Regions from separate parts of the Homo sapiens genome. Here regions 1, 3, 4 and 5 are each linked to region 2. The links come from fine-mapping of genetic effects on gene expression. A gene starts in region 2. Each other region holds a variant in brackets. All regions are shown on one strand. Distances are between the middles of the regions. Region 1 has its middle 4.7 kb from the start of TMT1B. Region 2 holds the start of SUOX (sulfite oxidase). Region 3 overlaps COQ10A (coenzyme Q10A). Region 4 holds the start of RNF41 (ring finger protein 41). Region 5 has its middle 30 kb from the start of APOF.

The links.
Region 1: its variant is fine-mapped to the expression of SUOX in unexposed skin (GTEx, PIP above 0.99).
Region 3: its variant is fine-mapped to the expression of SUOX in whole blood (TOPMed, PIP above 0.99).
Region 4: its variant is fine-mapped to the expression of SUOX in testis (GTEx, PIP above 0.99).
Region 5: its variant is fine-mapped to the expression of SUOX in sigmoid colon (GTEx, PIP 0.95).

The regions. Positions count from the first base shown.
Region 1 is chr12:55,674,486-55,679,614 of GRCh38, forward strand. No RefSeq gene overlaps it. Among named protein-coding and RNA genes, the nearest start is that of TMT1B, 4.7 kb to the right of the region's middle. The variant A/G (reference allele first, on the strand shown) is at 3,045.
Region 2 is chr12:55,994,239-55,999,238 of GRCh38, forward strand. SUOX (sulfite oxidase) reads left to right here and starts at 3,038. Exons shown (of 5, transcript NM_001032386.2): 1 at 3,038-3,101; 2 at 3,377-3,485. It overlaps RAB5B (RAB5B, member RAS oncogene family), which reads left to right. Exons shown (of 6, transcript NM_002868.4): 6 at 1-2,445. RefSeq lists an enhancer at 2,812-3,312 and a silencer at 2,898-3,087.
Region 3 is chr12:56,270,695-56,275,800 of GRCh38, forward strand. COQ10A (coenzyme Q10A) reads left to right here. Exons shown (of 5, transcript NM_144576.4): 5 at 1-272. CS (citrate synthase) reads right to left here. Exons shown (of 11, transcript NM_004077.3): 8 at 4,308-4,437; 9 at 4,083-4,184; 10 at 2,893-3,102; 11 at 1,005-2,560. The coding sequence ends at 2,390. Among named protein-coding and RNA genes, the nearest start is that of COQ10A, 6.3 kb to the left of the region's middle. RefSeq lists a silencer at 471-765. The variant G/A (reference allele first, on the strand shown) is at 2,036.
Region 4 is chr12:56,219,655-56,224,759 of GRCh38, forward strand. RNF41 (ring finger protein 41) reads right to left here and starts at 2,268. Exons shown (of 7, transcript NM_005785.4): 1 at 2,106-2,268. NABP2 (nucleic acid binding protein 2) reads left to right here and starts at 4,688. Exons shown (of 7, transcript NM_024068.4): 1 at 4,688-4,787. RefSeq lists enhancers at 2,190-2,239, 2,226-3,160, 2,460-2,679, 3,161-4,094, 3,511-3,805 and a silencer at 4,537-4,776. The variant C/G (reference allele first, on the strand shown) is at 2,929.
Region 5 is chr12:56,390,194-56,395,322 of GRCh38, forward strand. No RefSeq gene overlaps it. Among named protein-coding and RNA genes, the nearest start is that of APOF, 30 kb to the left of the region's middle. The variant T/C (reference allele first, on the strand shown) is at 2,007.

The DNA of each region.
Region 1 (5,129 bases), 320 kb before region 2:
TCATATATATGTTATAGAGAGATACAGATGGAGATGAAATGACATGATGTTTGGGATTTGCTTCAAAATGACACACAGGAGAAGGAAGCAGAAAGTAGAAAAGGATGTGGATGGGGAAGGATTGGCTGTGGGTTGATAGTTGTTGGGATGAATGATGTATACATGGGGGTATCTTATACTGTTCTGCCAACTTTTGTGTATATTCAAAATTCTCCATTATACAAAGTTAGAAATGAGAAAAGAAAAGGAGGAGACAGAGAAGAAATAGAATAAATCCTAGGTTTTTGGTTGAGCAATCAAGAAGCTAATGGTGCCATTCACTGAGATGATGAAGAAGATGGGCAGAGTAAGACAAGAGACTTGGGGAGTACCGTAAGTGTCATTTTGGACATGTTAAGTTTTATATGTCCAGAAGATATGCTGAGGAGGAGGATCAAGTACACAACTGGGTATACAAATTTGAAACTCAAAGGAAGGATCTGCACTAAAGATATAAATGTGTGAATAATTTGCATATACATGGCATTTTAAACCATGAAAATGGATGGGATTTGGTGAAAATTATGTGTCAATGTAGGTTCATCAATTGTAATAAATGTCCACTCTGGTGGGGGATACTGATAATGAGGAAGGCTAGTCATGTGTGAGGACAAAGGGTATGTGGAAAATCTCTGTACTTTCCTCAACTTTTCTATGAAGCTAAAACTGCTCTAAAAAATAAAGTCTATATTAAAAAAAAAAAGATGAGGTTATTTAATGAGAGAATTTAGACAGAGAAAGACCCAAGACTAAACCCAAAGAAACAAAATTTAAAGGTCGAGTAGATGAGAAAGATCTAAAAAAAGAAGTTTCTAAGAAGTAACAGCCACGGGAATGTTATAGAAACAAGAAGACTGTTATGTTAGGACAGCCTAGATGAGAGAATTTTTCAAGAAGAAATAGTAGCCAACTATTTCTGAAGCTGTTGAAAAGTCAGATAAGATGAGAACAGGGAATATTCACTGGACCTGGCATGTGGAAATAATTAATAGGCTTGATAATAATAGTTTCGGGTTTCTTTGTTTTGTTTTGTTTTGTTTTTAGAGACAGGGTCTCTCTCTGTCTCCCAGGCTGGAGTACACTGACCCAGTCATGGTTCACTGTAACCCTGAACTTGCAGGCTCAAGCAATCCCCTTGCCTCTGCCTCCTAAGTAGCTGGGGCTACAGGCGCATGCCACCACACCCGGCTAATTGGCTAATTTTTTTATTTTTTGTAGAGAAAAACAACAGCCTATGTTGCCCAAGCTGGTCTCAAACTCCTGGGCTCAAGCAGTCATTTCCTCTCGGCCTCCCAAAGTACTTGGATTACAGGCACGAGCCACCACGCCCGCCCAAAGTCATAATTCTTGAGTCATCTGCTCGTGTTATCTTGGTTTCCTCACCTTCCATTCACTCTTTCTCCCACTCCAATCCATCACTAATAAAAATTTCTTGGGCTTGGCACAGTAGCTCACGCCTGTAATCCCAGCACTTTGGGAGACCAAGACAGGAGGATGGCTTGAGGCCAGGAGTTCAAGATCAGCCTGGGCAACCCTGAGAGATACCCTGTCTCTACAAAAATTTTTAAAAGTTAGTAGGCATGGTGGTATGCACCTATAGTCCTAGCTACTCAAGAGGCTGAAGCAGGAAGGGCAGCACAACCCCAGGAGTTTGAGGCTGCAGTGAGTCAGAATGGTGCACTCCAGCCTAGGCAACAGAGCAAGATCCTGCCAAAAAAAAAAGACTTTGACATAGATTTGTAAAATGGAGTTTTAGCTAAAGTGACATGTGGTGTCAAGAGGGTCAGTTTATTATTAACCTGAAATATATTAGAGCATATTCATATTTTGAAAGATCCATGGAAAGGCAGAGATTAATGATTTAGGAGAAAGAAAGATAAAATGAAGACAAGAATTCATAGCAGCATTGTTTATAGTACCCCAAAAGTGGAAACAACCCAAATGTCTATCAACTGTTGAATAAATAAACAAAATGTGGCATATCTGTACAATGCAATGCTACTTGGACGTAAAAGGAATGAAGTATTGATACATGCTACAACATGTGTAAACTTTGGAAGCATTATGCTGTGTGAAAAGCCAGTCACATAGGCCACATGTAGTATGATTCCAATTACATGAAATGTCAAGAATAAGTAAATCCATACAGACATAAGTAGAGTAGTGATTGCCTACGGAAAGGAAATTGATGGTACTGGGGTTGGGATGGGGATGGGGGAAATGGGAGTAAGTGGTAAAAGCACAAGTTTCTTTTGGGGTAACGAAAATGTTCTAAAATTGATTGTGGTGGCTGGTTGCACAACTCTGAATATACAGTCACATGTTAAGTCATATGTTGCTTAACAACAGGAATAAGTTCCGAGAAATGCATCGTTAGGTGATTTTACCATTACGGGAACATCATCATAGAGTGTCCTTACACAAGCTTGGATGGTGTAGCCTACTATACAGCTAGGCTATATGGCGTAACCTATTGCTCCTAGGCTGCAAGCCTGTACAGCATGTTACTGTACTCAATACTATAGGCAATTGTAACACCATGTTAAGTATTTATGTATCTAAACGTGGAAAAGGTGTGGTAAAAAATACAGTATAAAAGATTTAAAAACGGCATACCTATATAGGGCACATATCATGAATGGACTTTGCAGGACAAGAAGTTGCTCTGGGTGAGTCAGTGAGTGACTACACTAAATTTATTTACATTTTTTTTTTCTTTTCTTCAATAATAAACTAGCCTTAGCTTACTGCAACTTTTTTACTTTATAAACTTTTTAATTTTTTTAACTTTGACTCTTGTAATAACACTTAGCTTAAAACATAAATATTCTACAGCTGTACAAAAATATTTTATTTCTTTATATCCTTATTCTATAAGCTTTTTCTATTTTTTAAATTTTTTTAACTTTTTTGTTAAAAGCTAAGACACAAAGACACACATTAGCCTAGGTCTACACAAGGTCAGGATCATCAAGACATCACTACAGGACAGGGATTTTTCAGCT[A/G]CATAATAATCTTATGGTACCTCCATCATATATGTGCTCTGTCATTGAGCTAAATGTGTTATGCAGCACATGGCTGTACAGTTGACCCTTGAACAACTCAGGACCTAGGGGACTGATACCCCTCACAATTGAAAATCTGTGTATCTGCAGGGTGGGGAACACCACACATTGGGGCCTGTCGTGGGGTGGGGTGGGGGGAAGGATAGCATTAGGAGATATACCTAATGTAAATGACCAGCTAATGGGTGCAGCACACCAACATGGTACATGTATACATATGTAACAAACCTGCACGTTGTGCACATGTACCCTAGAACTTAAAGTGTAATTAAAAAAAGAAAATTTAAAAAAATATATATGTGTGTCTGGCCAGGCATGGTGGCTCACGCCTGCAATCCCAGCACTTTCAGAGGCCGAGGAGGGTGGATCACGAGGTCAGGAGATCGAGACCATCCTCACTAACTCGGTGAAAACCCATCTCTACTAAAAATACAAAAAAAAATTAGCCGGGCGTGGTGGCGGGCGCCTGTAGTTCCAGCTACTCGGGAGGCTGAGACAGGAGAATGGCATGAACCCGGGAGGCAGAGCTTGCAGTGAGCAGAGATCATGCCACTGCACTCCAGCCTGGGTGACAGAGCAAGACTCCGTCTCAAAAAAAAGAAAAATTAGCTGGGCATGTTGGCATATACCTGTGGTGACCACTACTCAGGAGGCTAAGGTGGGAGGATTGCTTGAGCCTGAGAGGTTGAGGCTGCAGTGAGCTGTGATCGCACACTACACTCCAGCCTGAGTGACAGAGCAAGGCTATCTCAAAAATAAAAAATAAAATGAAAATTTCTAGAAAAGGAAATACAGAGGCTCTTAATTATAAGAAACAAAAATTCAACCTCACGCAGAAAAGAGTAAGTAAGCCGGGCACGGCAGCTCATACCTGTAATCCCAGCACTTTGGGAGGCCGAGGCTGGTGGATCACCTGAGGTCAGGAGTTCGAGACCAGCCTGGCCAACATGGTAAAACCCTGTCTCTACTAAAAATACAAAAATTAGCCAAGTGTGGTGGCATGCGCCTGTAATCCCAGCTACTCGGGAGGCTGAGGAGGGAGAATCGCTTGAATCCGGGAGTCGGAGGTTGCAGCAAGCCGAGATAGTGCCACTGCACTTCAGCCTGGGCGACAGAGTGAGACTCTGTCTCAGGAAAAAAAAAAAAAAAAAAGGAAAAGAAAAAGAAAAGAGCAAATAAAAAGCACAGGATAATACTACTTTGCCTCTTTCTGTGTCCATGGAGCAGGCCCAGGAGCAATTACTCCCCAGTGATAATCACATCCAGCATTCAGATCTTGGTTTTTAAATACCATCCTCCTCACAAAAGACCAGTGCTTCTTTGAGAAATAACTAAGTTCGGGGCTGGAGCAGGGGAAATACAAGATGAGCCTGGAACATCTTCTTGTAGCAGAAAGTAAGAAAATGCTCAAAGAGTGATGGAGTTGTGTCAAAAGGAGACAGGAGCCAGCTTGCAGGTGCTCCCCCAGCCAAATCTAGGGCAATTTGAACATCAAAATACACACCCAGGTATTCACCCAAGAGAAATAAAAGCATACGTCCACACAAACCCATGTACACAAACAGTTCATAGTAGCTTTATTTCTAACAGTCAGAAATTGGAAACAACCCAAACGTTTATCAACAAGTGAATGGATAAAAATATATGTGGTATATCCATACAATGGAATACTACTCAGAAATGGAAATGAACTGCGGATGCATGTACAACATGGATGACTCTCCAAATAAACATGCTGAATGAAATAAGCCAGATGCTGAAATCCCATACATTATAGGATTCCATTTACACAAAATTCCAGAAAATGCAAACTATTTGGGAGGCCAAGGTAGGCGGATCACCCGAGGTCAGGAGTTTGAGACCAGCCTGGTCAATATGGTGAAACACCGTCTCTACTAAAAATACAAAAATTAGCCGGGCATGGTGGTGCATGCTTGTAATCCCAGCTACTCAGGAGGCTGAGGCAGGAGAATCACTTGAACCTGGGAGGTGGAGGTTGCAATGAGCCAAGATCAAACAACTGCA
Region 2 (5,000 bases):
TCCTTTTTACAAGTGGAAGAACTAGGATGGCTTTCCAAAGTCTTCTAGAAATGAAGTTCTTTCTCTGTGCAGCTTTCCCCCTTGGAGCAGGAGTGAAGATGTTTCATTATCTTGGGCCTGGGAAACCACTTCCCCAGGCTTCTCCCTCCCCCCACCCCCATAGGAACAGGATTTGGCCTTAGCTTCTGGGCCTATCGGCTGCCTTCCCTCTACTTCCTACCACCTCTTCTGCCTTCCTTTGAGCTCTGTTGGGCTTGGGGATCTTAGTTTTCTTTTGTTTATTTCCCAGCTCATTTTTTTCTTCTGGTCAGTTTTTTTAAGGGGGGGTGTTGTGGTTTTTTGTTTTTGTTTTGCTTCTGAGAAAGCATTTGCCTTTCTTCCTCTCCCAACATAACAATCGTGGTAACAGAATGCGACTGCTGATTTACCGATGTATTTAATGTAAGTAAAAAAAGGAAAAAAAGAAAAGGGCATTGGAGTGTTGCTTTTTTTTATTTTATTGTTATTATTATTATTATTTTTGCTATTTGTCAGGTACTAGGAATTTGGAAGAAAGGATACCCAGTAATGTTCTACTGAATCAGAAACACACCTTTCCCTGCATCTTGATACATCTTTATTCCCTTTAATCTTTTCTTAAACATCTAGTTTAGAAAATAGCCCTTCTATTGCTATTTAATCACCCCTCTTCTAAGGCCACTAGATTGTTCATCAAATCAAACCCTATTATATCTTTTTAGGCCCTCTTAACAGAATGTATATGTGTAGGGTATGGTCTGTGGATCTTTGGGCCCACTGATCAGATTAGAGAGAGGGGTGCTATTTGAAGTAGTATACAAAAATGTATGTGCATATTTCTTTTTTTTTTTTTAATTGAGACGGAGTCTCTGTCGCTAGCCTGGAGTACAGTGGCACGATCTTGGCTCACAGCAATCTCCGCCTCCTGAGTTCAAGTGATTCTCCTGCCTCAGCCTCCTGAGTAGCTAGGATTACAGGCACGCACCAACACACCCAGCTAATTTTTGTATTTTTAGTAGAGACGGGGTTTCACCATGTTGGTCAGGCTGGTCTTGAACTCCTGACCTCGTGATCCACCCACCTTGGCCTCCCAAAGTGCTGGGATTACGGGCGTGAGCCACTGCGCCCGGCCGTATGTGCATATTTCTAGGATCCATTTCTATATGTTTCTCAAAGGGGTCCATGACCCAAAGGTTGAAAAACATCACTGAGTTAGTTTTCTTGTAGCTTCCACCTCAACGGGAAAATTTCCTCTGGATCTGCTCTTGACTCCTAGTGTACTTCAAACCCTTCAGTCCACCACAGTCTAAAGGTCGAGGGAAGGGAAATGAAATAGGATTATGTGTGGTTGCAGTAGGCTTTAAATTCCAAAGAATCTGAAGGTGGATAGGAAAGAGGACTGGTGCCAGACAAATCTGACATTCTAGGCCTGTCTCTGTCAACTTAACCAGCTGTGGCCTTGATCAAGTTAGTTAGTGCCTTCCGCCTCGTTTCTTCATCTGTAAAGTAAAAGCTGAAGATTAAGGTCAATTATGTAAAGTATGTGTGTCACACAAAAGTAGATGACACTATTAGGAAGGAGGCTTTTAGATAGTCCCTAACTGACTTCTCTGTATCTTCCTTTGGCTGAGACTTTTTTTTTTTTAGGTTGAAGCTCGCTTTCTCTCTCTCTCCCTCTTTCTCCCTCTCTCTCTCTCTCTCACTCTCTCTCTCTCCATATATATATACATATATATATATATATATATTTTTTTTTTAACAACTGGTAGGATAGGTTGGGCATTAGCCTTCTTCAGTGATTTGATTGTATACAGATTGAAATCCTTTCCATTTCCAAACACTTAAGAGCCAAAGCCAACTTGCCAACTTTTCACTGTCGGTTCCCTTACCTTATATCTCTTGGTAATACCCCCCACCCCCGTTCCCTGATTCCTGGTAAAAGCTCTAGTTGGAGAGCCGAAAGGAAAGGAAATGATCTTTCAAAATTAAAGGTGAACACCTTCACTTAAACTGATTAAAATTGCAGCTCCACCGTCCGGCCTCTAGAGGGCAGTGTATGGATACATTTGTCCAGATTGGGGGACTAGGTTTGATAAATTTTGTCCTGCATCAAATGACAAAAGGGTAATAGGAAATGTATTATATTTATGCCCCTTACTTTGAGATAAGAGACTACAACCTTCATACTTCGGGGTGTTAAGCTGCCATTGCTCTTGTTAAGGGGCAGTTTGTTTTTTAAGAGATGGGGTCTTGCTCTGTTGTCCAGGCTGGAGTGCAGTGCCGCGATCTTGGCTCAGTGCAACCTCGAACTCCTGGGCTTAAGCGATCCTCCCGCCTCAGCCTCCCGAGTACTGGGACTACAGGCGTGTGCCACCAAGGGGCGATTATTATTTTTTTTTTCTACGCAAAATAAAAGACGGCTATTCAGTGTTGTTGTTTCATTTTTGTTTGGGGAGAAATTCGACTAGCCCAAGGAATCTCAAATTCTTGGAACCACTATTTTAGGCATTTCTGTTATCATTCCTGGAATACGAGAACTAAGCGATTGACTTTGCTTTCCCTAAAAGATAAACAGGGTAGTTGTAGTTGCAACAGAGTAGATAGAGGTAGGTCTACCCTGGGTTTAAAGTGGAGATCACAGCCGGGGAAAACCGGACTGGATCCCGAGGCCTCCTCCAGGGAGGGGCGGCAGGGGTGTCTCAAAATCTCCCACCTGTCAGCCCAACTTTTGGATTCCTTGTCACCTTCCACACTGCCCGAGCTCCGGACATACAGCCCTGGTGCACAAGGGTCCCATTCTTTGCACACCAGGGGTATAATGGACTCCGGACTGTTGGCGAGAGTGACAGCAAAAAGAGCCAGCCTCTTCTCCCAGGCTTCTTAGCAACCTGCCTGTCTCGGCTCCAGGAGGCGGGTTCCAGCCAATGGTTGAGCCACCCGCTTCCAGCCAATGGCTGAGGGATAAGCTGAGGGGAGTGAGAGGTCACTTACTGCAGCCGGACATAACGGCGCTGGCCCCGCCCCTTCTCGAGAACTCGCAGAGCTGGGCTGGTAAAATTGCAGTGCTGAAGACACTGGACCCGGTAAGGAGACTGGGGGTGGTAAAGAAGCTGGGGAGGAAGGGCTGCTGAGCTGGGCAGCGGAGGGGGCCTTGGTGTCCAGCTGTGCTCCGAACCTCAAGGGCAACAAAACTATCAGTACCTGCCTCCACTCCTTCTGTCTGGGTGCTCTTGAGATCGCGGGGTGTTGCCGCAAGACCCTTTTGTGCCTGGATGCCGGACGTATGTTCCTACCTAACGTGCCCATGGGGAGTGAGGGGTCATCACCTGCACCAACGGGTGGCATTTCTGTATTACAGCAAAAGGCTGTCCCTCCCAAACCTGGGATTCTGGGCTCACTGAGTTCACCTGCGAGTCAGCCCTACCTGCACTGCTCTGGTCTAGTACAAACAGGCTGCTGGCATTGAGGTAGGTGGCAGAGAGAGTAATGGTCCCATGGCCCAGGGGCAAGGTGAAGACTGCTCCTATTCCCATCTCTAGGTTTCCTTTCCTCCCTACCCACGACCCACCCACCCCAGCACATTGGTCTCCAGCATCTCATCAGCAGTTTAGACATTTGTCACCCCTCCTCACTTTGGCCCTGCTGGGTCAGTGCTCTCTGTTCAGCAATTTGAGGAAGAAACTTGCAGGGCAGAGAGCAGAAAAATTACCTTCCTTCTCCAGCCTGCCCCTGACACTCTGGCCATTAACTCCTCAATTTGCTGAGCTCACTACAGTGGCACAGAGAAGATTGAGGTGGTCCGGGACCCTAGGTTGGGGTCCAGTTCCCAGCTGGGTTCAATTTTTTTTAGGGTGAATGGAGGGAGAGTTGGGGACTGAAAAGCCTTCAAAGACAATGTTATTACAGCAGTCTCCCCTTATCCAAAGTTTCCTTTTCCTGAGTTTCAGTTAGCTATGGTCAACCGCTTGGAAAATAGTTGAACACAGTACAATAAGATATTTTGAGGCTGGGAGTGGTGGCTCATGCCTGTAATAATCCCAGGACTTTGTGAGACCAAGTTTGAAGGATCACTTGAACCCAGGAGTTTGAGACCAGCCTGGGCAACATAGTAAGACCTCATCTCTACAAAAAAAAAAAAAAAAAGACCATGCATGGTGGCACACGCCTGTGGTCCCCGCTACTCAGGAGGTTGAGGCAGGAGGATGGCTTGAGCCCAGAAGTTTGATGCTATAGTGAGCTGAGATCACGCCACTGCACTCCAGCCTGGGCAGAGCAAGACCCTGTCAGGGGCAGGGGGAGGGGAGGGGAAGCCGGACAGTGGCTCATGCCTGTAATCCCAGCACTTTGGGGGCTAAGGCAGCAAGAGGCCAGGAGTTCAAGACCAGCCCTGACAACATAGACTCCCATGTCTACAGAAAAATTAGCCAGGCTTGGTGACACACACTTGTAGTCCCAGCTGCTGGGGAGGCTAAGGCAGGAGGATGGCTTGAGCCCAAGAGGTTGAAGCTTCAGTGAGCCATGATCGACACTTGCTCCATCGCCCAGGCTTTTTTTTTTTTTGAGACAAGGTCTTGCCCTGTTGCCCAGGCTGGAGTACGGTGGCGCCATCATAATTCATTGCAGTCTCGACCTCCTGGACTCAAGCCATCCTCTCATCTCAGCACTCCTCTCCCCACCACCCCGGTAGCTGAGACTACAGACAGGCACCACCATGCCCAGTTAATTTGTTTTTTTTTTTCTAGAGACACAGTCTCACTATGTTGCCCAAGCTGGTCTTGAACTCCTGGAGTCAAGTGATCCTCCTTCCTTGGCCTCCCAAAATTTTGGGATTATAGGCATGAGCCACCATGACTGGCCAAAAAAAAGTATATTTTGAGAGAGAGACCACATTCATATAACTTTTTTTTGTTTTTGTTTTGAGACAGGGTCTCGCTCTCTGTTGCCCAAGCTGAAGTGCAGTGGCACAGTCAGCTCACTCTGTA
Region 3 (5,106 bases), 280 kb after region 2:
CAGAGGTACTGAGTGGTAAGTAACTTTTACCCTGCCTGAGATTCCTCAGGAGAAAAGGCAACCTGCCTCCAGCCTGAAATACATAAAGCCTCATTTTAAGACTGTAAGTCCATGCTGCCTGGCTACTAGAGAGCAAGGGGCTTTCTTACCACCAGTGCTGAGGAGAAAAGTACTGAACGGAAACGGAGTTGTCTTTGTACTCTTGAGTTGTACCTTATTCTTCCACTTGGCCTGAGTTTTTATAAAATTTCAATAAATTGTGACAGTGTGAATTTGGCTTTATTATATTGTTTCTTGGGGCAATAATGTAGATATAGTAGAGTAGAACGAAGTTATGGCTTCTTTTCCTGGGGGAGTGAAGGTATAAGAAGGCCTCTTGGACACAGTGTCCCTGCTAACTATAGTAGCACATTCTACAAGCCAGGACCTAGTACCCACCCCCTTGTCTATTTATAGACTTTTTCAGAAGGTCAGTTGCAGCAGGGATCTCAGGACAGAATCATCTGGTCTTGGACCTCCCATATATGTGATGCCCTCAGGACCACCTCTTGTTATTTTTGGGACCTCCTTCAGGGAAGCTATAAAGAGCAGGCACTCCAAGAAGTACCAGAGCCCTCTAGTGGCTCTGGTCCTGAGGTAGCAGTACTAGCCCATTCGTCCTTGGTAGTTTGTTCCTTTCTCTCAGTGGGCTAGACCAGTTCTTGGATTAGTCACATAAGCAATTGAGAATCTCAGCTATAGCCCTTGAGTATGTTACCTTACAACAAAATTAGCAAGGTTAGGGGCTAAACATCAAGGACTTCCTAACCTTGAGGAAGGACAGAAATCTCCTCTGGAAATTTCTCAGGGAGGCTTTCCTCTGGTTAAGGTAAAAGAAAGCCAAACCTGCCTAAAGATAAATGGATACAGATTACTTATAACCCACTAAGTTCAGGATCTTGCTAGCCAGATTCCTTACCTCATAATAAAGGTTCTTCCAGGCCTTATTTAATAATAGGCTCAAGCATTGTTAATAAAAACATTTATTTTGCATTTTATACAGAACAACCTGAAGTCTCCATCATGACTTGACAGTTACCCAGGGGTTTACAGTGTGTCCAACTCAACAGTGTGGTTCTGGGACTGGGTATCCACACAAACACAGGCAGGAGTTTGGAGGAAAGATGGGGGCACAGCAGGAGTGTATCTTAATCCTTTCTCAAAGAAAAAGAAGTAGAGCATTCTGAGTTGCTGAAAACCTGTGCAAATGGGGCTTCTGAAACATTGTACTGTGAGCTCTCAGGGAAAGGGAGGAAAAAGATGTTGATAAATAAGGAGGCAATTTCTTGAGGCAGGGGACGAGGAGGGAGGCTTACTATTTTTAATGCCCTCAGCCCCAGTACCTGATAATCAGAGGAGACCATGTCCAATCTTGAATCAATTCCCTGTTCAAAAAGAGGTGCTAATACCCCGGGGACAAGACTCTGAAAATATCATGCTGGTCATTCCGGAGTTCTATGCCCCACAGCATATTAAAAGATGGGGGTTGGTGGGGGGTGGGGAGGTCAGAAGGTAGTGGCTTGTATTCTGTGGAAGTAAAAAACTTAGTTCACATTAAGCACTGATAAAACCCAATGACTGGGCCCACAGATCTGTTGAGAGGTCTCTAGTAGGGACCAAGAGGGGGAGGTCCAGAACATCCTCTGCCTGAGGTGCAACAGGTGTAGAAAGTCTGGGAGGAGGTGAGTATTAAAGTAATGGGAAACAGAACACTCCCAGACCTTAATTTTAATTGGATAGTTTTAAAAAAAAAATCAAACATTGGGTGCCAGTCACAACAAATGCCATGCCTTTATGGTCACTTGGTAGTATAAAAAAATTGCCAAAGCATGTCCAGCTAACCAACAGGTCTTGCTAGGAGGTGTTTGTGTGCATGGGAGAGGGCCAAGGGGCTTGGTACAGCTGACTATCCAACATGATTCCTATGGAAACAGAAGGGGCAGAGTCCTGGTTTGCTGGCTTATTGAGGGCTTGGCAGAGAAGCTAAAGCTCCAAA[G/A]TGACTACAGATTCTCTGCAACCGGCTTTGACCCATGGAAACAGGAGCCAGATTCTCACTCTAGAGATAGTGAGGGGGCCAAACCTACTCATACCACATGCATTAGTCCTGGTCATCCTCCAGGACCATGCGTATGATGGGCAACTCATACCAGGCAGGGGAAGGGAGCTGATTAGGGAAGAAGGGACCATTTTTCATCTTTTAAAGTCTTAATTTATATTTTAACCTCAAACATATTATCAGTGCCTCAGATATAATTTAATCTTAAGTCTTTAAAGGCCCCCTGAAACAAAAGTATACTTTTTATTTAGGCTTCCTCACTTTCTGGTAGTCACTTTCACCCAGTCTCCAGTTTTACCCTGACTTAGAGTCCACAAACTTCATCAGACCCTCTGTGCTCATGGACTTGGGCCTTTCTAGAGGGAAGCCTAAGGCTCGGCTCCAGATGAGCTGTGCCAGTACACCCAATGCTCGTGACACCCCAAACAGGACCGTGTAGTAATTCATCTCCGTCATGCCATAATACTGTAAGGTAGAAGAGAAAAATATTTCATTTAAGGCAGAGGCAGTGGCATGTACAAGTCCTAGGTGATAGAAACCTTAAAAGCTAAATTTTCCATTTTTCTCCAAGGACTTAGCCCAGTCAACCTTAAATAGAAATGACACTGAGAAAAGTATAGCAATTGGGATTCTGAAAACAGAGCAACCCCAACCCCCAACCCTCTCATAGTCAACTTTATCAAAATGCTCTGTGAGGGAAGTCCCTGCTCTGACTAGGAGTTAATTGACTTTGTGCATGGCAGATAACAATAGGGTTTGGTACAAATTAGAGGGAAAAGAGGGAAAGGAGGACTTACCTGGAGCAGCACCCCACTGTGAGCATCTACATTGGGCCAAGGATTCTTGGCTTTACCCTGCTCTAAGAGGACATTGGGCACAATCTTGTACAGCTGAGCAACCAACTTAAACATGGGGTCATTAGGCAGGTGTTTCAGAGCAAACTCTCGCTGACAGGTATATCGCGGATCAGTCTTCCTTAGTACTGCATGGCCATAGCCTGGAACAACCTGTAAAGAGTGAGGAAAAAAGATAGTATTCTCAGTAGAAATTCTTTTATTTTTCGAGACAGGATCTCACTCTGTCACCCAGGCTGGAGTGCAGTGGCATGATCACATCTCACGGCAGCCTCGACCTCCCAGGCTCAGGCAATTCTCCCACTTCAGCCTCCAGAGTAGCTGGGACCACAGGTGCACACCAACACATCTGGCTTTTTTTTTTTTTTTTTTGGTAAAGATGGGGTCTGGCCGTGTGCGGTGGCTCATGCCTGTAATCCCAGCACTTTGGGAGGCTGAGGTGGGCAGATCACCTGAGGTTGGGAGTCCTAGACTAGCCTGACCAACTGACCAACTCGGAGAAACCCCGTCTCTACTAAAAATACAAAATTAGCCGGGCATGGTGGCGCATGCCTGTAATCCCAGCTACTCGAGAGGATGAGGCAGGAGAATCACTTGAACCCGAGAGGCGGAGGTTGCAGTGAACTGAGGTTGCGCCACTGCATTCTAGCCTGGGCAACAAGAGCAAGACTGTCTTTAAAAAAAAAAAAAAAAAAAAGATAGGGTCTGTGTTGCTCAGGCTGGTCTCAAACTCCTGGGCTCACGAGATCCATCCACCCTGGACTCCCAAAGTGCTAAGATTATAAGCGTGAGCCACCACACTCAACCTATTTAAAACTGTTTTTTAGAGAATGGGGTCTTGCTGTGTTGTCCTGGCTGGAGTGTAGTGGCTATTCACAGGAGTGATCTTAGCACACTGCAGCCTTAAACTCCTGGCCTCAAGCAATCCTCTTGCCTCAGCCTCCCAAGTAGGTGGGACTACAGGTGCATGCCATTGTGCCCACCTAGAAATTCTTTTCTAAATTCTTCAAGGTAGATAAATGAAGAAAAAAAAATCTCTAATTTAGGGACCTCTTTCATTCTTTTCTTAATTCTTCCAAATTGCAGAACTTGTGTCTTGGTTTCTTTCCTAGTCGTTAAGCATCTCTGCTTACCCGTCCTGAGTTGAGTGTGTTCCAGATGTAGTCTCGTAACTTCTCATCTGACACATCTTTGCCAACTTCCTTCTGCAGCTGTGTTAGCCAGACAAGCACTTCCTATGGGTAAGGTTTGGGGAAAAAGGGAATGTTAATACATATGCCAGAAGAGAATGCCAAGATCAGAAACAAAGCATGGGGTAAGGAAAACATGTAGCAGGAAAATAAAAAGAATAGTCTTACCTGATTTGCCAGTCCATGGAGAGGCCCTGCCAGCCCGTTCATGGCTGCTGCAAAGGACAGGTAAGGGTCGGAAAGGGCACTGCCCACCAAATGGCTGGTATGGGCACTTACATTGCCACCCTCATGGTCACTGTGGGGAAGTAAGAAGGGAGAGCCAAGGGAAGAAAGAAGGGGCAGATTATGGAAACTTTGCTGTTCTCTTATTTGCCACTTACTAGCCTAGTTATGGGCTCATGCCAGCCTATAGCCAGTCAGTTATACCTAAACTCTTGTAAAAGACATCCTAATCTTGGCCAGGCACAGTGGCTCACGCCTATAATCCTAGCACTTTGGGAGGCCAAGGCGGGTGGATCATGAGGTCAAGAGATCAAGACCATCCTGGCCAACATGGTGAAACCCCGTCTCTGCTAAAAATACAAAAATTAGCTGGGCATGGTGGCACACATCTGTAGTCCTAGCTACTTGGGAGGCTGAGGCAGCAGAATCACTTGAACCTGGAGGTGCAGGTTGCAGTGAGCCAAGATTGCGCCATTGCACTCCAACCTGGCGACAGAGCAAGACTCCATCTAAAAAAAAAAAAAAAAAAAAGCATCCTAATCTCATTACCAGCTTTTGTTCACTCATCCACAGAGCTGGAGAGGTTACTGGTTGATGATGCCTGTATGCTCTGCTCCATGACTCCAACCTAGCTTTAATAGCAATGGCCCCAAAGAGCGAGCTCCTGGAAAGCTGAAGGACCATCTAATGTGAGCAGCTAGTACCTTTTCCCAGCCAGAAGCACCATCTTGTTCTTAGCATG
Region 4 (5,105 bases), 230 kb after region 2:
GTATATATGTGTATATACACGCGCGCACCCCTTATACATACTGTCTGCAAATCAAATGAAATAATAAATACGAAAGGAGGCTGGACGCAGTGGCTCACACCCGTAATCCCAGCACTTTGGGAGGCCGAAGTGAGTGGATCACCTGAGTCCAAGAGTTTGAGACCAGCCTGGGCAACATAGTGAAACCTTGTCTCTACAAAAAATACAAAAATTAGCCGGGCATGATGGCGTGAGTGCCTGTAGTCCCGGCTACTGAGGAGGCTGAAGGGGGAAGGTCAACTGAGCCGAGGAGGCAGAGGTTGCAGTGAGCAGAGATCGCAGCACCGCACTCCGGCCTGGGTGACAGAGTGAGACCCTGTCTCAAAAATAAATAAATAAATAAATAAATAAATAAATAAATAAATATGAAAGGATACTGAATACTGTTATCCTCAAGTAAGATTATTTGTAGCAACAGAATACAAAATAAGGCTGGGTGCAGTGGCTCATGCCTGTAATCCTAGCACTTTGGGAAGCCGAGATGGACCAATCACCTGAGGTCAGGGTTTTGTTTTGTTTTTTTTGGCGGGGGGTGTGGGGAGACAGAGTCTCACTCTGTTGCCCAGGTTGGAGTTCAGTGGTGGAATCTCAGCTCACTGCAACCTCTGCCTCCTGGGTTCAAGCAATTCTCCTGCCTCAGCTTCCCAAGTAGCTGGGACTACAGGTGCATGCAGCCATGCCCCGGCTAATTTTTTATATTTTTAGTAGAGACGGGGTTTCACTGTGTTGCCCAGGCTGGTCTCGAACTTTTGAGCTCAGGCAATCCGCCCGCCTCGTCCTCCCAAAGTGCTAGGATTACAGGCGTGAGCCACCGCGCCCGGCTACAGTCAGAGGTTTGAGACCAGCCTGGCCAACATGGTGAAACCCCATCTCAACTAAAAATACAAAAAATTAGCCAGGCATGGTGGCAGGTACCTGTAATCCCAGCTATTCAAGAGGCTGAGGCAGGAGAATCGCTTGAACCCAGAAAGAGGTGGCACTGAGCCGAGATTGTGCCACTGCACTCCAGCGTGGGTGACAGAGTGAGACTCCGTTTCAAAAAAAAAAAAAAACAAGAATGCAAAATAAATTTAGAGTACTGAGAGTCGGAGAGGAAATGCTTGACAAAAGCTTGTTCCTTCTTTTTACTAGAAGGCAGGGCTAGCCACAGGTCGGTCGGCTTAACATTGCATCACTCACATTCCCTACCACTAGTCCACTACATTCTTATTTGGGGCAAAACTATCAGCCAACAACACTATCAGTCTCTTGCCCTATTGTCAGACTCTAAAACCCCTGTATAGAAAGGGATAACACTATCACGGGCCAGTCCCCAAGAACAGTGGCCTCAATAACAGCCCCACTTGCTATTAAATGAAATGAAGTTTCTGAACGGGGAAGCAGTCTGTCAATCCCTCAAGCAAAACGCCTTCACCCCTCCTGGCTTTCTGCTCTTCCTCTAGCCCCCTCCTCCCCACTACCCAATTTCCCAAAGTCCTGAGTTAGGGAAGGCCTTCCAGTGTGTGGTGTGTGAACCCTGCCAGAGAGCCAGGCTGCAAACCAAGCGCAGGGATGTGAAGAATGTGAGATTCCTTCATGGAGGGCTGGGAGGGGGTGAGGAGCGGGGAAGGAATGAGAGGACAAGGCTGCCAACGACAAGGCATGGGAGAGGAGCCAAGCTATGGCGCTTCGAGGGCGGGGGTTTAGGTTCCACCGCCCCTGCCCAGGCTGGCCCCCGGAATGCTCCCTTCCTCCCCTTCTGGCCCGTCAATCATTGCCCATTTAAACACCACGCTGTTCCCCCAGTTCTGCAGGTGCCGGTCCTCCAGCTAGCCCCGGCCCCCTCCCGCACTTCTCAAAGCTCCCCTATTCCAATGGACCTTCCCCAACAACCCGTTCTCCAGAGCCCCCTTCTCACCTCCCGACTCCTCGCCAGTGCTGCTCCCTTCTCACATTTTTATCTCTACCACCATCCCTCCTCCTGAACCCCAGTTATTTCAACCCCCCGCCCCAATACCCCTGGGACATCACCTCCTCCCCTCCCACACCCTCTTTTAGGTGGAAGATCGCGCAGGCGCAGTACGCACCGCCCTGGAAGCGGCCTGGAGTCTCCGCAACCTGACCCAGTCGGAGCTGAGGCCGCAGCGGCCACAGTACTGCCCTGGTGCCGGGTCCCAGCCTCTCCCGGGAAGGGAAGGGAAAGGGGAAGGAGGGGAAAGAAGACTCCTACCACTCGTCGCCGCCTCAGACGGATCCTTTGCCCCGCCCACCGCTGCTACGCAACCCGGCGGAAGCTCGTCACCAAACCCCGCCTCTTTGTTTAACTCAGCCCCTACACCAGCAGCCAGGAGCTGCCTACGAGGAGGGACGAAGGCTGGCCAGGCCTCCACTCTAGACAGGAAGTCTAGTCTAGAGTCTATATGGTCCCAGCCAGGACTATGTAGCCATTTAGGAGGGAGAACTCTATGTTCTTCCCGGCAAAAACGTGTGGGCCTGGCCGGCCACGCTTCGCTTTGGAGGGGTGCAGGTGACTTGTGTCTTAGAGCTGACGCAGATTGTTGCGAGATCATTGCGGAGAGGCAGGCCTGCAGCGTGACCTGCTGCGGGTCCGGCCCCTCTCCCTTTTCCAGAGCCCTGGTCAGCATCCCAGAGCTTCGTAACCCCTTGACTCCTGTCATGGGAATGGATATTGCAGTTAACAAGGCGGCCGCGGGGTGGGGAGTGAGGGAGTCTGACCGCAAAGCTTAGATCTGGGGTGCTCAACGGGTTGTCTGCCTCTCTCCCAGGCGCTCTCCTGCCGTATCCACGATGGCTCCCCGAACACTTGTGGAGTTCCCTGAAACACCTAAGAGGAAGGAAGGGAGAAAAAATTTCCCTCTTCCTGAGTTGGGGTTTGATTTCCTTAGCTTA[C/G]AACACCGTGGTGTTGGGGATGTGGGCGGTAGAGAACGTGGGATCCAAGGGAAGTCAATGTGGAGCCTAAAGAGCTCCGTGAGCAGATAAGGGATTAATTAAGCAAACCAAGGCATTACAATCACATGACTTCCTAGACTAATCTGGTATTAAATAGTATGGTATTTATTGTGGACATTGGCTAAGCAAATGCTAATGCACATTAATACACACATACACACATATCTTTATGTAATTTGTTTATACACAACAATACAGAGCTAGCTACCTTTTGTGGACAATTTGACAGGTCCCAAAAGGAACTAAAGTTTCAGGCCTCCTTTCTGCTGTCTTCTAGCGGGACTCTGAGATAAGTAAGATAAGAGTAGTATGGCCGGGCGCGGTGGTTCATGCCTTTAATCCCAACACTTTGGGAGACCGAGGCTGGTGGATCACGAGGTCAGGAGTTTGAGCCCAGGCTGGCCAACGTGGTGAAACCCCGTCTCTACTAAAAATACAAAAAAAGTAGCCGGGCGTGGTGGCGGGCGCCTGTAATCCCAGCTACTCGGGAGGCTGAGACAGGAGAATCGCTTGAACCCGGGAGGCAGAGGTTGCATTGCAGTGAGCCGAGATCGCGCCACTGCACTCCAACCTGGGCGACAGAGCAAGACTCCTTTGCCGGGGTGGAGCGGTGGGGCGGGGCGGGGAAGAGTAGTATGGCCAGGTGCAGCGGCTCACGCCTGTAATCCTAGCACTTTGGGAGGACGAGGTGGGCGGATCCCTTGAGGTCATGAGTCCGAGACCAGCCTGGGAAACATGGCGAAACTGTCTCTACAAAAAAAATACAGAAATTAGCCGAGGGTGGTAGTGCGAACCTGTAGTACCAGCTACTACGGAGGCTGTGGTGGGAGGTTGCAGTAAGCCAAGATTGCACCACTACACTCCAGCCTGGGTTACACAGCGAGACCCTGTTTCAAAAAAAAAAAAAAAAGGGACTAACAATGTTTCTCTCTTTGTCGCAGGTTCCATTTCTTCCAAGAAGGGTGAGCCTGCCTTTTGTCTCTGGTGTAAATGCCACTTTTCCCAGAGACCTTGACCAAGCTGGGTAGTGCATTAAAGATGAGAACCCCAAATCAGGAACAAAGATAACGGTTAGAGCAATAAAAAGGGAGGAAACCGTGTGTGCCTACTGTGTGCAAGGCACTTTTTTAAATATAACTTCCGTTTTCTCGTAAGATGGAATTACATATTTTTTGTCTTTTTTTCCCTTTTTGTGGAGAATGGGGTCTCGTTATATTGCCCAGGCAGGTCTGGAACTCCTGGACTCATGCTATCCTCCAGCCTATGCCTCCCTACGTGCTGGGATTACAGGCGTGAGCCACCGCGCCTTGCGGAATTGGAATTACATATGTTTAAATAGTCGAGAAATGAAGTGAAGCATTGAGCCAGGATTCAAACTTTTGTCCGCCAGATTCCGAAGCCCTTGCTCCTTTTCCCATTGTGTCACTCTTTGGAAAGAAACGTCTTAGAACCTAAGTGCATTCTCCCTAGCCAAGTTAAGGAAAACTGGGGGCCCTGTGCGCCTTCTAGTGGTGGATTTTTCCCCCTACAGAGCCAACTATCTCCAAGGTTCCTTTAATACCTGAAATTCGCCCCCTTCGCGGCGCACGAGTCTCTGATCCCGATTGGCTGGGCAGGGCAGGCGGCGGGACGCAGGGCGCGCCCGGGCGGTGCTGATTGGCCGGAGGAGGCCAGCCGGGGGAAACTTCCGGGAATGTCCGCACTCCCGCGTTCCACGGGGCAGCATCCGGCGGCAGCGGAGCCTGTGGCTCCCCCTGCGGGCTGCTCAGCGGCGTGCACAGTCCTGCCGGCTGGCTTGGGTGGGTGGTGGGCTGCGGGTAGGGGAGGGGATGGACCGAGTCCCGGCTTGTCGGGATGAGGGTTCCGGAAGATCTGGCCAGTAAGATTCTACTCCCTGGCTGTGCACCGGGTTCCCTACCCCTGTCTACGTCGGCTCCGCCACTTCGCGGCTTGAGACTAAAAGAGCATCCCGGCAGGGGGCCTTCCAGCCCCAAAGCAGCCTGTCCAGAGACCCCCAAATTCTGATCCTGAAGTTGGAGGCCTCCGGGGATGTTCTTTTTTAATCTTTTAGAAGGGTTAGAGGGGTTGAGGCTGCCTGACCCCAGCCTAATGGGGTA
Region 5 (5,129 bases), 400 kb after region 2:
TACTTTTTGTAGAGACAGGGTTTTACCATGTTGCCCAGGCTGGTCTGAAACTCTTGAGCTCAGTTGATCCACTCACCTTGGCCTCCCAAAGTGCTGGGATTACAGGCATGAGCCACTGCACCTGGCCTAAGAAATGTTAATAAAAGTCTGTAGACAGAGGAAAATGACTTCCATTGAAAATCTGGATGTACATAAAGAAATGAAGACCATAGGAAATAGTAAATAGGTAAATATACATTTTTGTTTATTTGTGTGTGTGTGTGTGTGTTTTCTTTTGAGATGGAGTCTCACTCTGTAGCTCAGGCTGGAGTGCAGTGGCACAGTATCGGCTCACTGCAACCTCCGTCTCCTGGGTTCAAGCAATTCTGCCTCAGCCTCCCGAGTAGCTGGGATTACAGGCGCCCACCATTACGTCTGGCTAATTTTTAAAATATTTTTAGTAGAGACAAGGTTTCACCATGTTGGCCAGGATGGTCTCAAACTCCTGACCTCAGGTGATCCGCCCGCCTCGGCCTCCCAAAGTGCTGGGATTACAGGCATCAGCCACCGCGCCTGGCTTAAGAAATGTTAATAAAAGTCTGTAGACAGAGGAAAATGACTTCCATTGAAAATCTGGATGTACATAAAGAAATGAAGACCATAGGAAATAGTAAATAGGTAAATATACATTTTTGTTTATGTGTGTGTGTGTGTGTGTGTGTGTGTGTGTGTGTTTTCTTTTGAGATGGAGTCTCACTCTGTAGCTCAGGCTGGAGTGCAGTGGCACAGTATCGGCTCACTGCAACCTCCGTCTCCTGGGTTCAAGCAATTCTGCCTCAGCCTCCCGAGTAGCTGGGATTACAGGCGCCCACCATTACGTCTGGCTAATTTTTAAAATATTTTTAGTAGAGACAAGGTTTCACCATGTTGGCCAGGATGGTCTCAAACTCCTGACCTCAGGTGATCCGCCTGCCTCGGCCTCCCAAAGTGCTGGGATTATAGGCATGAGCCACCGTGCCCGGCCCCTTAAATATACATTTTTAAAAGAGATAATTGACTATTGACTATTTAAGGCAAAAATAATGTAGTTTATAACATATGTAAGTGTAAAATGTAACAATAGCACAAAGGCTGGGAGGGAGAAAATGGAAGTATACTATGGTTTCTTACACTGTAAATAGCACCTGAAGGTAGTCTGTAATAAATTAGAGATGATTACTATAAACCCTAAAGCAACACTAAAATAACAAAGCAGGTGTGGCACAGTGGCTTATATCTGTAATCTCAGCACTTTTGAGGCTGAGGCAGGAGGATCACTTGAAGCCAGGAGTTTGAGATTAGCCTGAGCAACATAGCGAGATGCCATCTCTACAAAAAATAAAAAATGTTATTCAGGGGCTGGGTGCAGTGGCTCACATCTGTAATCTCAGGACTTTGAGAAGCTGAGGCAGAAGGATTATGTGAGCCCAGAAGTTCAAGACCAGCCTGGGCAACATACGGAGCCTCCATCTCTATAAAAAATAAAAAATTAGCCAGGTGTGATGGCACAAACCTGTGGTCTCAGCTACTTGAAGGTGGGAGGATCACTTGGATGTGGGAGGTGGAGACTGCAGTGAGCCATGATTGCACCACTGCACTCCAGCCTGGGTGATAGAGCAAGACCATGTCTAAAAAAAAAAAAAAAAAGCCAGATGTAGCGGCACATACCTGTAGTCCCAGCTACTTGGGAGGCCAAGGTGGGAAGATTGCTTGAGCCCAGGAGTTTGAGACTGCAGTGAGTCATAATTGCAAAATGCACTCCACACTGGGTGACAGAGCAAGACCCTGTTACAGAAAGGGAAAAACAAAACAAAACAAAACAAAAACAGAAGATAGAATTATAAAAAAATACTGAGTTAAACCCAAAGAAGAGCTGGGTGCAGTGGTTCATGCCTACAATCCCAGCACTTTGGGAGGCCGAGGTGGGCAGATCATAAGGTCAGAAGATCAAGACCATCCTGGCTAACACAGTGAAACCCCGTCTCTAC[T/C]AAAAATATAAAAAATTAGCTGGGTGTGGTGGTGGGCACCTGTAGTCCCAGCTACTCGGGAGGCTGAGGCAGGAGAATGGTGTGAACCCAGGAGGCAGAGGTTGCAGTGAGCCAAGATCATGCCACTGCACTCCAGCCTGGGCGACAGAGCAAGACTCTGTCTCAGAAAAAAAAAAAAAAAAAAAAAAACCCAAAGAAGAAAGAGAGGAAAGGAGAACAAGGAACAGATGAGACAAATAGAAAACAAGTAGCAAAATGTAATATTTAAACCTGACAATGTCAATAATGATATTAAATATAAATGGTCTAAACAACAAAATTAAAAGGCAAAGATTGTCAGATTGGATAAAAGAAAAAAGTCCAGCTATGTGCTTTCTACAAGAAACCCACTTTAAAAGAAACAAATAAATTATAAGTAAAAGGATTTTTAAAACTATACCATGCTAACACTAACCTAGAGAAAGCTGGAGTGGCTATGTTAATATCACAAAAGCAGACTTCAGGGCTGGAAATGGTGGCTCACGCCTGTAATCCCAGCACTTTGGGAGGCCGAGGCAGGAGGAATGTGTGAGCTAAGTTTGAGACCATCTTGGGCAACATAGTGAGACACTGTCACTATAAAAACAGATTTTTTTTTTTTTAAGAAAGAAAAGTAGGCCGGCAGTGGTGGCTCACGCCTGTAATTCCAGCACTTTGGGAGGCCAAGGTGGGCAGGTCACGAGGTCAGGAGCTCGAGATCAGCCTGACCAACATGGTGAAACTCCATCTCTACTAAAAATATAAAAATTAGCTGGGTGTGGTGGCGCGCACCTGTAGTCCCAGCTACTCAGAAGGCTGAGGCAGGAGAATCGCTTGAACCCGGGAGGTGGAGGTTGCAGTGAGCCAAGATCACGTCACTGCACTCCAGGCTGGTTGACAGAGCGAGACTCCATCTCAAAAAAAAAAAGAAAAAAAGAAAAGTAGACTTCAGAGGAAAGAATATTATAGGGATAAATAATGTCATTTGACAGTGAAAAAGGGGCCAATTTATTAAGATGACCTAACAATTCTAAGCATTTATACATATGATAACAGAGCTTCAAAACACAAGAAGCAGGCTGGGCACTGTGGCTCATGTCTAATCCCAGTACTTTGGGAGGCTGAGACAGGTAGATCACTTGAGGTCAGGAGTTTGACACCAGCCTGCCCAACATGGCAAAACCCTATCTCTACTAAAAATACAAAAATTAGCCAGGTGTAGTGGTGCACACCTGTAGTCCCATCTACTTGGGAAGCTGAGGCATGAGAATTGCTTAAAACCGGGAGGCAGAGGTTGCAGTGAGCTGATATCATGCCACTGCACTCCAGCCTGGGTGACAGAGCAAGACTCTGTTTCAAAAAAAAAAAAAAAAAAAAAAAATCCAAAACAATGTACCAATAAATTTAAAAGGATTCAAGTCATACAAAGTATGTTCCTTGAGCACAGTGGAATTAAATTAGAAACTAATTACTGATATCTGGATGATAGCCTAGTATTTGGAAACTAAATAACACACATTTAAGTAATTTTCATTTCAAAGAGTAAAAAGAAAATTCAAAAAGTACTTTGAGCTGAATGAAAATAAAAACAGAACATGTCAAAATTTGTAAGATGTTGCTAAAGCTGTGCTTAGAAGGAAATTTAGAGCACATGAACATACAGATTCAAGAAATGGAGTGAACCCTAAGTAGAATAAATTCAAAGAAATCTATTGCAAGACACATCATAAGCAAACTTCCTAAAATAAATACAAAGAAAAAAGTCTTGGAAGCAAATAGAAACAACATAGTACCTATAAAGGAACAATTATTCCATTGACAGTAGATTTCTTATAAGAAGCCATAGAGACCAGCAGGGAATGGCACATTTTCCAAGTACTCAAACAAACAAACAAACAAACAAACAGACAAACGTCAACTTTAAATCCCATACCCAGCAAAAATATCCTTCAGGAATGAAGGTGAAATCAAGAGCTTCTCAGATAAGGGAAACTAAGATAATTTGCTTCCACCAGACCTACTCTTAAAAAAAAAAGAAAGAAACAAAGCTTAAAACATTGTGAAGAAAATTTGGGAGGCTGAGATAGGCAGATCACTTGAGGTCAGGAGTTCAAGACCAGCATGGCCAACATGGCGAAACACCATCTCTACTGAAAATACAAAAATTAGCCAGGCATGGTACCGCACGCCTGTAGTCTTAGCTACTCGAGAGGCTGAGGCAGGAGAATCACTTGAACCTGGGAGGCAGAGGTTGCAGTGAACCAAGATCACATCACTGCACTCCAACACTGGGCAACAGAGTGAGACTCCATCTCAAAAAAAAAAAAAACCAAAAAACCAAACAAAACAAAAATTATGAAGAAAGAAGAGGAAGTATAAAAATATAAATACATGACAATAGGTCAATCTTCTCATCTTGAGTTTTCTAAATTATATTGGATGGCTGAAGTAAAAATTATATTATCTGATATGGTTCTCAATATATAGATAGGAAATATTTAAGATAATTATAGTATACAAGGGGGAGGGAATGTTAAGGGACCTAAATGGAGGTAAGATTTCTATACTTTACTCAAACTGATAAAATGTTGACACCAGTAATTGTGATAGGTTTCATATGTATAATGCAATATCTAGACCAACCACTAAAAACATTCATAATAAATAAAAATTTATAACAGATAAATCAAAAAGGAATTTAAAGAAATGTTCAAGTAATCCACAGGAAGGGGAAAAAGGTCAAAGAGTAATGAAAATGAGAGCTGAAACAAACAAAAAGAAACATAAAATGGCAGACTTAGCCCTAATATATCAAAAATTACATTAAATGTAAATGATCTAGGCATACCAATTAAAAGACTGGTAGAAAAATAAAAAACAACATGTATATGTACATGTACATGTAAATATAATGACATAGGTAAGTTGAATGTAAAAGGATAGGCCAGGTGCGGTGGCTCACATATGTAATCCCAGCACTTTGGGAGGCTGAGGTGGGTGGATCATCTGAAGCCAGGAGTTTGAGACCAGCCTGGCCAACGTGGAGAAACCCCACCTCTACTAAAAATACAAAAAATTAGCCAGGCGTGGTGGCACCTGCCTGTA